3 linked regions of the Homo sapiens genome follow. The protein of the gene in region 3 purifies or fractionates together with the protein of the main gene of each other region. This does not show direct contact. Each region holds a gene or a part of one and is shown on either strand. Other genes may lie near its edges.

The links.
Region 1: the proteins of ROPN1 (region 3) and MBNL1 purify together in Homo sapiens (affinity purification with mass spectrometry; 2 studies listed by BioGRID and IntAct, with this or other methods). This does not show direct contact.
Region 2: the proteins of ROPN1 (region 3) and PCNT purify together in Homo sapiens (affinity purification with mass spectrometry; one large-scale study listed by BioGRID and IntAct). This does not show direct contact.

What each region holds. Positions count from the first base shown.
Region 1 is NC_000003.12:152,429,277-152,432,928, reverse strand, and holds part of MBNL1 (muscleblind-like protein 1), read right to left. Parts: intron 213-3,652; coding exon 9-212; intron 1-8. UniProt on the Homo sapiens protein: Mediates pre-mRNA alternative splicing regulation. Acts either as activator or repressor of splicing on specific pre-mRNA targets. Inhibits cardiac troponin-T (TNNT2) pre-mRNA exon inclusion but induces insulin receptor (IR) pre-mRNA exon inclusion in muscle.
Region 2 is NC_000021.9:46,428,593-46,432,244, forward strand, and holds part of PCNT (pericentrin), read left to right. Parts: intron 1-1,417; coding exon 1,418-1,640; intron 1,641-1,914; coding exon 1,915-2,065; intron 2,066-2,936; coding exon 2,937-3,623; intron 3,624-3,652. UniProt on the Homo sapiens protein: Integral component of the filamentous matrix of the centrosome involved in the initial establishment of organized microtubule arrays in both mitosis and meiosis. Plays a role, together with DISC1, in the microtubule network formation.
Region 3 is NC_000003.12:123,971,673-123,975,129, forward strand, and holds part of ROPN1 (ropporin-1A), read right to left. Parts: intron 1-3,457. UniProt on the Homo sapiens protein: Important for male fertility. With ROPN1L, involved in fibrous sheath integrity and sperm motility, plays a role in PKA-dependent signaling processes required for spermatozoa capacitation.

The sequences.
Region 1 (3,652 bases), about 28 Mb from region 3:
ATTCCTACCTCAAGTCTGTCTGTTCGCATTAATTTCTGTGCAGCAGCTGCAGCAGCTGCAGGTACAGGGACACCCGGATTCCCTGTAACCAACATTGGTGCAGTCGGCAAGATCTCTGCCGGGACCAGGCTTGGAGAAACAGGTCCCAGATAGGGATTAAAGGCGGCTGCTGATGCATTGGTGGCTAAGCTTGGTGCAACTGAAAACATTGGCTGAAAAATAAAATAAAAGCAAAATTTAACATGCAGGTCTCAGCTCAAAGTTGATATTCTTAATTATACATTTGTCCTCCATCCATCTATCCATTCTTCCTTAGGCCTTCCCTCCTTCCCTTTAATCCTGTGTTCATTTACTATCATTTAGGGTAAGGCTGTTTTATTAAATAAACATTCATCAAATCAATGTTTTTCTAAAATATAATAAGTAAAATATCCATTAAATTATTCACTGGAATTTTGTAGCTGAGGGTCTATAATACTTGTATTTTTTTTTTGAAAAATAGATAAACTATGCAGAAACTTCTTGTGGTCATCTAATCTTCATCTTTGTCCTGATTTAATTCTAGATATTTGTCTAACAAATACATTTTGTAATTGCTATGTCAGATGTACTTGAAAGACCTGTTTACAACTGTTAATAGGTTGCAAGTGTCCTATTATCTGGAATAAATAAAGTAGAACTCCCAGGGGATAAAAGAGTTTCACAGTCAATGTAAGCTGTAAATAAATCTCATGGGGTATGTGAAAGGTGATGATGACACCTTGCCTTTTGAGCACATAAGATAAAGTGTTTGGTATATTTACTTGATGGTGATTTTCCTGGGGGAAATTATAAGTGTTCCACTAGCCTATCACACCTTATTAGGGGAAAACAAGTCTGAAATGTGAAGTTTGAAGTAGAACTGCTACTAAAGAAATGCTACATGATTGGTCAAGGAAATACATATGGCAGCACTGAATAAACTGCTACAAGACAGAATTTCTTCCAGAAATGCTTTCGTGGATATATAAGGATTGTTTCTATTTGTTGATATGCAAACTTGCATATCATAAAATATATTTGTTCTTGAATAGCATTAATTTACCTGAAATCTAACAATTTGTTTTTCTAGTATTTAAAGTATAACAGAACACAATTTCATACCTTATTCATAGTACATTTTTAACTTCCTAATAGAGTCTCAATTCTAATTCTTGAAGTTTAATGCTTCGTTTAATAATGTTTGTTTCTGAAACACAAAAGCTTGTAGGCAAAACGGATGCTGTTCTTTAAGGTAATATTTAACAATTTATTTTCTTTACTCAGCAGTAATGAACAGAATTATAGAAGACTCTTTAGAATAAAAGAGACATTAGAATGTATTAATAACTAATTCTGCCATCTGACAGGAATAAGAAGTTACATGATATCTGAATATATGTAGTATTCAAGAGAGCTCTGTAGTAAAACTTTTTGCAATATAAGGTATATATTACAAATGTAATTCTTATAGTACAAAAGAAATTTGTTAAAAGATAAAATATATCCTCTATTCACTCTGGCCCTGATTCTATATTTAGAAAAATAAAATGAATTTCAAGTATTCCCTTTTTCTTAGGGCAGTGGTTTTCAACTGAGTTATTTTGCCTCTCAGGAGACACCTGGCAATGTCTAAAGACATTTTTGGTTGTCACAGCTGGAGGGGAACTATTATATTCAATGGATGGACGCCAGGGATGCTGCTAAGTGTCCTACAACATACAAGACAGCCCCTCGCAACAAAGAATTATCCAGCCCCAAAAGTCAATACTGTCAATGTTAAGAAGGCCTTTCTTAGGGAACTCTTCTGTTGACCTCAAAAATTGCTTGGGAAACAAACTCTTTGCATTTAGCTATACATTTTTACTAACAAAAATATGAAAAAACAGAATATGTAATACCTAATGTGATTCATTGAGAAGAAACAATACAATATAGATTATACCATTTCAACTTAAAATAATTATGCCTCTGAACATGTTGGTTTGAATGCCATGTTTAGCTGCTCTGCCAGGTCGATGGCTCTTGCCTGATGAAGTGCCCTCAAGTAGCACCTCTAATCCCCAACCCCTCCCAGCACAAAGCAGCAACCTGCAGACAACAAGAACTATCTGTGCATTCCAAATCTTATCAACAAGCTGTCAGAAACTAGGGCCTAGGGCATTCTCTGTCCACCAACACTTCCCTGAGCCGCAGCTGACTTAATGCTGTGCCACTGTCCACTCTCTGCCCAGGTGACAGCAGGACAAGGATTGATTGTATACTGAATATATGTTGAACTTGGATTTCTATTCAAGGATATTCAGGTTAAACTTGTACTTTGTTATACATTGTCAGATTGCATATGAAAATCCAGCCAGACCAGCACCCTAATTTCTATATTAGTCATTTAAGAATTATAAGAAATTTAGCATAGAAGACTAAAAGAGTCTATGTCAGGGGACTAACAGACTAGTTTAGCAAATGGACAACAGAAGCTATTCATTATCATTCCTCTTTGCATTCTTTTACTATGAATAAACATGTATTTCCAGATAGTGCATTTTTAATGTATACTTCAGAAAGTTATTGAGATGTTTATATTATTGCACATAATCTACTATAATTATTTAAAAGCAAAGGTCAAATTTAAAAATGTTTTTGGAAGAAAAAGCAATTTTTATTTTAATAAAATGAGACCAGAGGCTAATAAAACTCAGCTCTCTAAATCTCGTCAAATAAAATACACTGGAAATCTAAAAATGCATATGATGCAGCTGTTGCACATTACAGGCAGAATAATACTTTTATTATGTAAAAATACTGCTTTTAATAACTGGCAATAATATTTCCTGAGTTGTTTCTATAGAGTCATCAAGACAATTGATCTTTCACTTTAATTCAGCAGAGCAAATTCAAATCTGAACAATTTTAGGGCACTGTCCCCAAGTAAAGTCGGTAGGAGCGTTTAAAAATGTGAAACATCAACTATTCAGCAAGCACTATCTCAAATTGTTCCCTCTTTCGATAAGTAGAGCTATTTGCCGAACAGGCAGACAATCAGTAACAATAGCTTTATACTTTGAAACTTGATTCCAAAAGACAGACAGACAGACAGACACACACACACACACACACAAACACACACCATTCCTTCATTTATTTTAAATTTTTGTAAATTTGTTACATCACTTTAGTTATATTGTTTTTTCAAGGAGCGCCATGTTGAAGATAGGTCACTGCTAGCCCCATCAGAGAGTGCCCTAATCAGAGAAATCAGATTAGGAAAGCACTTGACCTGCACTACTGCCAGTTTTCTATTCCAAAAGCTAACCTGCAGGGGGTTCAGCAGAATCTCAAAGACAGATATTAATGCAATGTTGTTATCAAGTGGCATCCTGTTTTCTCTGAAGGATAACATATAACAATGTAATTGGTATATTTGATACTGACTATATTCTTGTGATAATGATTTGTAAGTATCTCTGTTCCTGAAAGACATAAGAAAGTTTGGTTTATAATTGCCTTTTGCCAATGAACATCCTCATCAGAGAAAAACAAAGTACAAACTTACTAATTCTGGTGCTGTTTATGGGTTAATCACTTGTTTGTTTTAAATCAGACATTGATTCCATTAAGGTAATCAGACTTCATT
Region 2 (3,652 bases), on a different chromosome or scaffold from region 3:
GGGTGTCACTGTCTACACTGCCTGGGGCCCGGCCTCTGCACCTGCCCGCCCGACACTCACCTGTGTGGCCTTGGGAGCAGAGGGTGGTGACAGGGCATCATCTAGTCAAGCCCCTGAGTGTTGCCATGGTTGTCAGCTGATAGGACTGAGCAGAAAGGACCCTGGAGACAGGCAGCGCTGGGTGGGGCTGGCACGGAGGCCTCACTCTTGGGCCTGATGTGGGCAAGAGGGGCCTGGGTTGGGCTCTGAGTGCTGGCAGATTCTTGGGAGCTCATGCTAGAGTTCAGGAATGTCTCGTAGGTTTCTACATTTAATTTAGCTTCTTCGGGAGTTTTTATGTAGATGCTCAGGTCATCTGTGGGTAAGTAACGATTTTTTGTTTCTTGCCCGTGTTCTCTCACGTGCTGTGCCGTCAGCTGTGTGGGCAGATGCCATTCCCTGCTCTTAGTTTTGGGGGCAGGAGCTGGTCTCGTACCATCGCATGTGGGGTCAGGCGCCCTTGGTCAGCTTGGGCAAGTGCCCTCTGTTCCTAGTTTTGGATTCCGTCAAGGGGAACGGCCTTGCAGTTCAGCCCACGGCCCTTGTCCCGGCGCCCATGCCCTTTGTGCTCTCTGGGGCTGGGGGCCGGCGCTGTGCACATGCTCGTGAGGGGCATGGGTGGGGCTGGCGCTGTGCAAGCGCTTGTCAGGGGCATGGGCGGGGGGTGCCGGCGCTGTGCGAGCGCTCGTGAGAGGCATGGGGGGGCTGGCGCTGTGCACGTGCTCGTGAGGGGCACGGGCAGGGGGTGCCGGCGCTGTGCGAGCGCTCGTGAGGGGCATGGGGGGGCTGGCGCTGTGCACGTGCTCGTGAGGGGCACAGGGGGGCCGGCACTGTGCGATCGCTCGTGAGGGGCATGGGGGTGGTGGGCCGGTGCTGTCTGAGTGCTCGTGAGGGGCACTGGTCTGTTTTCTGTTGTGCCTTTTTGGTCTTGGTGCTGGGTAGCGCCAGCCCCACGGGGTGCGGGAAGTATTTGGGAAGTAGCCCCTCCGCCCTCCGTTGTCTAGAATTGGGGTTATTTCTTCCTTAAGTTTTGGGAGAATTTTCCAGTAAAGCCACCTGGGCCTGGAGTTCCCTCTGTTGGAGGCAGTTTAGGGTGTGAGTGGGGGTGAGGTGGCATTTTTAGGATGGCCCCAGGGCTATATCACTCCTGGACTCTGTGTCTCCCGGCCAGGTGGGTGGGCCCTGGAAGGAAATGGGCCCAGAGGGCAGAATTGAGCATCCTGGTTCCACCCGCAGTGAAAGCTTCTAGTCCACAGAACCTCCTTTCTTCCCGAAGCACATACACCTCACGCCCCCACGAGTCTGTCTCTAACCTGGTGTCACTTGTGCAGCACGAGGAGCTCATGGGGGCCTGTTACTGTTCTTTTGTCTTTCTCAGTTGAACTGCTGGCTTATAAAGTAGAGCAGGAGAAGTGCATTGCTGGTGACTTGCAGAAGACGCTGAGTGAAGAGCAAGAGAAGGCAAACAGCGTGCAGAAGCTCCTGGCGGCGGAGCAGACTGTAGTGCGAGATTTGAAGTCCGACCTCTGTGAGAGCAGGCAGAAGAGCGAACAGCTGTCCCGGTCCCTCTGCGAGGTGCAGCAGGAGGTCCTCCAGCTGAGGTGCGCCTGATCCCCCTTCCTGGGACACTGGCGGGAGTCCCCCCGTTGTGCCATGTTTTCTTGGTGATGAAGGGAGACAGAACCTCTGGTGGGCCGCAGTTGGGCAGCCCCAGGGGCACCGCGCCCTGCTGTCCCTGGGTTGATAATCCTGTGGTGGGGGGTGAAGCACACGTGTGGGACCTGGCAGGGCTCTGCCTCCCCTCCTGGAGCTCCCAGCCCCCGGGAACACACTCTGGCCCACGTGGTCAGATTGTTCTGCGATGTCTCCACGCAGATCCATGCTGAGCAGTAAGGAGAACGAGCTGAAGGCCGCGCTTCAGGAGCTGGAGAGTGAGCAGGGGAAGGGGCGTGCCCTGCAGAGCCAGCTGGAGGAGGAGCAGCTGCGGCACCTGCAGAGGGAGAGCCAGAGTGCCAAGGCCCTGGAGGTAACAGGGTGTCAGGGCAAGGCAGCCGGCATGGGCTGTGTGCACTGGAAGCCTGAAGCCATGCTCCTCTTTCATCCTTCTTTTCCTGTTCTTCATGGCAGTGCACCCAGTTGACAGCAGTGTGACGTAGCAGGATAGGGCTGTGTTTGCAGGTAAAATTGCACCTTGGTGTAGTGGCAGCCACCACAGGGCGAAGAGTGCGATGACCCGTGGTGGCACGATACCCCTGCTCGGAGCCCCCCCCCGTCCCTGAGCACTTGCTGTGGAGATGGACACAGCCTCCTCGCTGGCATCCAGACAGAGCACAGCCTCAGAGGTCTGTGCACAAGGCAGGCTGGTGGTGGGGCCTCTGCTTTGCATGGCGGAGGCCCAGCAGGCCTGCTGTGGCTTCTGAGCAAGTCTGTGCCAGTTCCATGGGTTATGGCTTTCAACAGCATGGAAGTGGTGGTTCCTAGCAAGCTGGGTGTGTATCTCTGAGCCTCTGGTGGAGTGATTTTCTGAAGAGGGGGCAGGAGCCTCTGGTGGAGTGATTTTCTGAAGAGGGGGCAGGAGCCTCTGGTGGAGTGATTTTCTGGAGAGGGGGCGGGCAGGGGACATCTCTGAATCATTTTCTGGAGAGGGACAGACTGGGAACATCTCTGAACCCAGGACTCAACACCATTTCCGAAAAAAGTATGTCATCTCCGCAGTCTGGGTTTTTTGTTACTTGATGAACTAACAAAAAAATGTTGTCCCTACATGTGGCTAATAGGGTGCATTTCAAAAGGTAGAATTGCTGGGCTAAAGTATATAAACAAATGTGGACAGGAAAACCATGTAGACACTTTTCCTCTTGATTCAGTGTCTCCCATCGTATGTGTTTGCTGTCTAGGAGCTGCGGGCGTCTTTGGAGACACAGCGTGCTCAGAGCAGTCGACTCTGCGTGGCACTGAAACACGAGCAGACGGCCAAGGACAACCTGCAGAAGGAGCTGCGTATCGAGCACTCACGCTGCGAGGCCTTGCTGGCTCAGGAGCGGAGCCAGCTCTCTGAGCTCCAGAAGGACCTTGCGGCTGAGAAGAGCCGCACCCTGGAGCTGTCAGAGGCCTTGCGGCACGAGCGGCTCCTGACCGAGCAGCTGAGCCAGAGGACACAGGAGGCTTGCGTGCACCAGGACACACAGGCCCATCACGCTCTGCTGCAGAAGCTGAAGGAGGAGAAGTCCCGGGTGGTGGACTTGCAAGCGATGCTTGAAAAGGTGCAGCAGCAAGCCCTGCATTCTCAGCAGCAGCTTGAGGCTGAGGCTCAGAAGCACTGTGAGGCGCTCAGGAGAGAGAAGGAGGTAAGTGCCACACTGAAGTCGACGGTGGAAGCCCTGCACACCCAAAAACGAGAGCTGAGATGCTCTCTGGAGAGAGAGAGGGAGAAACCAGCGTGGTTGCAGGCAGAATTAGAGCAGTCACACCCACGGTTGAAAGAGCAAGAAGGACGCAAGGCTGCGAGGAGGAGCGCGGAGGCCAGGCAGAGCCCAGCGGCTGCGGAGCAGTGGAGGAAGTGGCAGAGAGACAAGGAGAAGCTGGTGAGAGCCGCCTGCCGGCGGAGCGTCCA
Region 3 (3,457 bases):
GGTTTGGGGTAGATTTGCAAGCACACTCTGAACATTATAATTTCCACCCACAGCTCACCCTGTTTCTGTAAAAAACAAACAAATGAACAAAAACAACCCTCTGCACCCCTAATGCTTTGTTCTGTTGCCCTCTCCCATGGGGTGCTGGTATGGGCTGAATTGTTCCCCCTAAAGTTCATGCCAAAGCCTTAACCCCAGAACTGGAGAATGTGATTGTATTTGAACATACGACCGTTAAAAAGATAAGTTAAAATGAAGTTAGTAGGGTGTCTTTATAAGAAGAGGAGTTAGGATATAAAGAGAGAGCCACCAGACATGTAGGCACAGAGGAACACAGTTTGAGAAGCTGGCCATTTTTAAGCCAAGGAGAAATGCCTCAGAAGAAAGCAATCCTGCTGACAGCTTGTTCCCAGAACTGTCCTCCAGAACTGAGAGACAACAAATTTCTGTTGTTCAAGCCACCAAGTCATGGCAACAAACTAACATAGCGGCTTTCAACCCTAAACATCATCTTTTATTGATTATTCAAACTACAAACCTTCAAATTCTACTGCCTCATAAGATTTTTAAGTATTTTTAAAGATTTAATAAATGGATGAGTGTATAAATAACTCTTTGGACTGGAGCTATTTGGTAAACTGACATAAACCTAAAGTAAACAGATCTTCATTCTCTTGCACAATATTTTTTTGGGATCCGCTTCACAGACATAATCTTTAAGCATCTTGCGAGCTTCATTTTCAAAGTTAGAGGTGAAAGCCTTGAAATGTAAATCGTTTGCTAACAAATATGTCATTCCTTCCAGTGAACATGATTATTTTCTACATACGTGATCTCTTCCTTTTTTAATAATCAGTTCAGTGGAACAGGAGGTGGCATAGGCCAGTCCAGAGGAAGGAGTGCTGAAGGGAGGAGGAATACAGGTCTGCATGCCATCGCATTCTGAATAATGTGTATTAGACGCAGAGAGCTCAAGATGGAGTAAATGTACCTATTACCTACCAGAGTAAAAATTCCTGTTACTAGATCTTCTACAAGGAACAAACTGGCTTTTCTGAATGGCATAGAGATCTTGTCTTGCTATTGAATTGGCAAAGGAAAGAGAAATTCTGGGCTTGCCTCTAAGGATATATGAATTAACTAGGATGCAAGGTCTCCACCAGATGGTGACCCCTGACTTAGTCTCAGCTATAATAAAATACCTTAGACTGGGTAATTTATAAACAACAGAAATGTATTGCTCACAGTTTTGGAGTCTGGGAAGTCCAAGACCAAGAGGCCAGCAGATTTGCTCTCTGGTGAGGGCCTGTTCCTCATGAATGATGCCTTCTATGTGTCCTCACTTGGTGGAGGGGCAACTTTTATAAGGGCACTAATCCCATTCATGAGGGCTCCACCCTCATGACCCAATCAACTCCCAGAGGCCCTACTTTTAAGGCCATCACCTTGGAAGTTGAGATTTCAATATATGAATTTTGGGAGAACACAAACATTCACACCGTACCACTGGCCAACCCCACATTTAAGATCCCAGAAACAGTCCAGCTCCAGCATGATAGAAATGAATATAAGGGTATTGATTACTGGTTTCATAGGACACCCTTTATTTGCAGATTTAACCTCCAGGCTGACTTTATCTCTAGGGGTTCTTTGACATGGGGATGATGAGGAGCAAAGTCAGATATGTCAAGGCCTCTTAGAATTGGAGGAGCTCACTGTTATTCAGAGGTGGGCCTGAGGGTGTCTCAGAGGAAGCAGAGAAGTGGGGATAGAATCACAGGATGTCAGAGGTAGATGAACCTCATGGAATATTGAATCCCACCTCCTTATTTTAGAAGGGAAGTAGAAAGATTCAATTCACCTCATGGTTTCCCCTCTCCAGTTTGGGAGGCAGGTACATCAGAGGAAACCTAGCATCTACACCGTGGGCTAAGCAGAGGGAGGGTTGGAATCTGACTTTCCAAAGTCACTCTTTGTTACTGTGAGGTATGGGGATAAGGGAAGAACTCAGACACACCACACACTGGTGAGGGTCTGTGAAGTAGACCACCAGAGCCAGGGAGCAGATAGGACAGCCTGGCAGAGAATCAAGGAGGCCCTCGACACCATTGAGAACTGAAATGAGCCAGTTGGGGAGGCATCATCAGCCTTTCACCAGTCCGGGAGAGACGAGACCAAAAACTTAAGCTGCAAGCAGCTAGCGACCAGACAGACAGGCATTACCATGGAGACCAGAGATGCCAGGGAAGACTAAGGGATGTGAGAAACCCTTCACTTGACTGCTCTGTGGTCCTAGAGTCAGCTCTTTCTGCCTACATTCAACTGCCATCTTGGAGAAGAGAGCGTGGTGAGGAAAAACCTGAGATACTGGGAAATTTACCTTTAGGCTGTTTCAGTTACTGCATCAGACTAAAATTTCAGGATTGGATTGAATTTATTTATTTTCTTATTTGACCCTTTGTGGGTGGGGTAGACCAAGAAGATCCAAATTAACTACAGATAAAATTTTAAAGGTATATTTTCCCCCAAAAACGTCTCCAAATGTGGTGTGAAAAAAATCTGTAACCCTATGAGAATTTAATAAAATATGTTCATTTTTTATCTTCCTGTTTGTGATTTTCCCCAGTCCTGACTGACAACTCATAGGCCTCTGCTGCTTACTTTCCTTTCCTCCTCAGAGGATAGTGATTTATTCAGTAATAAATGCTATAAAGGACAATGAAGAAAGTGCCACAAATGTCCTCTTGTTTACTTCTCTCTAAAGAAATGATTATGATGAAGGCTGTAGGGGAATCTATAGGAAATTTGGACTACAATATTTCCACTAAATTTTCTCAGAAACAAACCTGTCAAATATGTATTCCAAGCATATTTGAGAAGAACAAGATTATGTTTAGATATGCTGAATGATTCAGACTACCTTTTCATACCATTTGGTTTTGGCAGAGGCAATTATTTTCTCAATAATTTTCAAACTTGTATGTATCTCAGGGATTCTTTTAAAAAAACACGTTTTTGATTCATTTTAAGTTATTTTAACAATGTTTAGCAATGTAAGTCCACATATAAGATACCCAAGCTTTAAATATCTATACATATAAGCTGATTTCAGCATCTTTGGCTTCAAAACAGTAAAATTGCATTTCCAATATCAAACAAGTCAAATTTGGAAAAGGCATAAATCTGTATGAACATCCTGCATCCATGGAGATGTCATGACTAAATTCAGAAATAGCCTCATCTCTCTTTTTTTTTGCTTTCTTATGTCTGAGTTCTGCATCCAATTCTGTTTATTACATAGTTTTCGATAAGATTGTACCCCTTTTAAACAGTGTCTATTGATATATATTCTAGGTGTCTGGAAGTCTTTTTCTACAGTCGGCTCTTGGTTGTCTCTGGGAATATGAATGGAAGGAGCGGAGTGAAAATAAATCTGAGGGCAATATTCATAAATAAT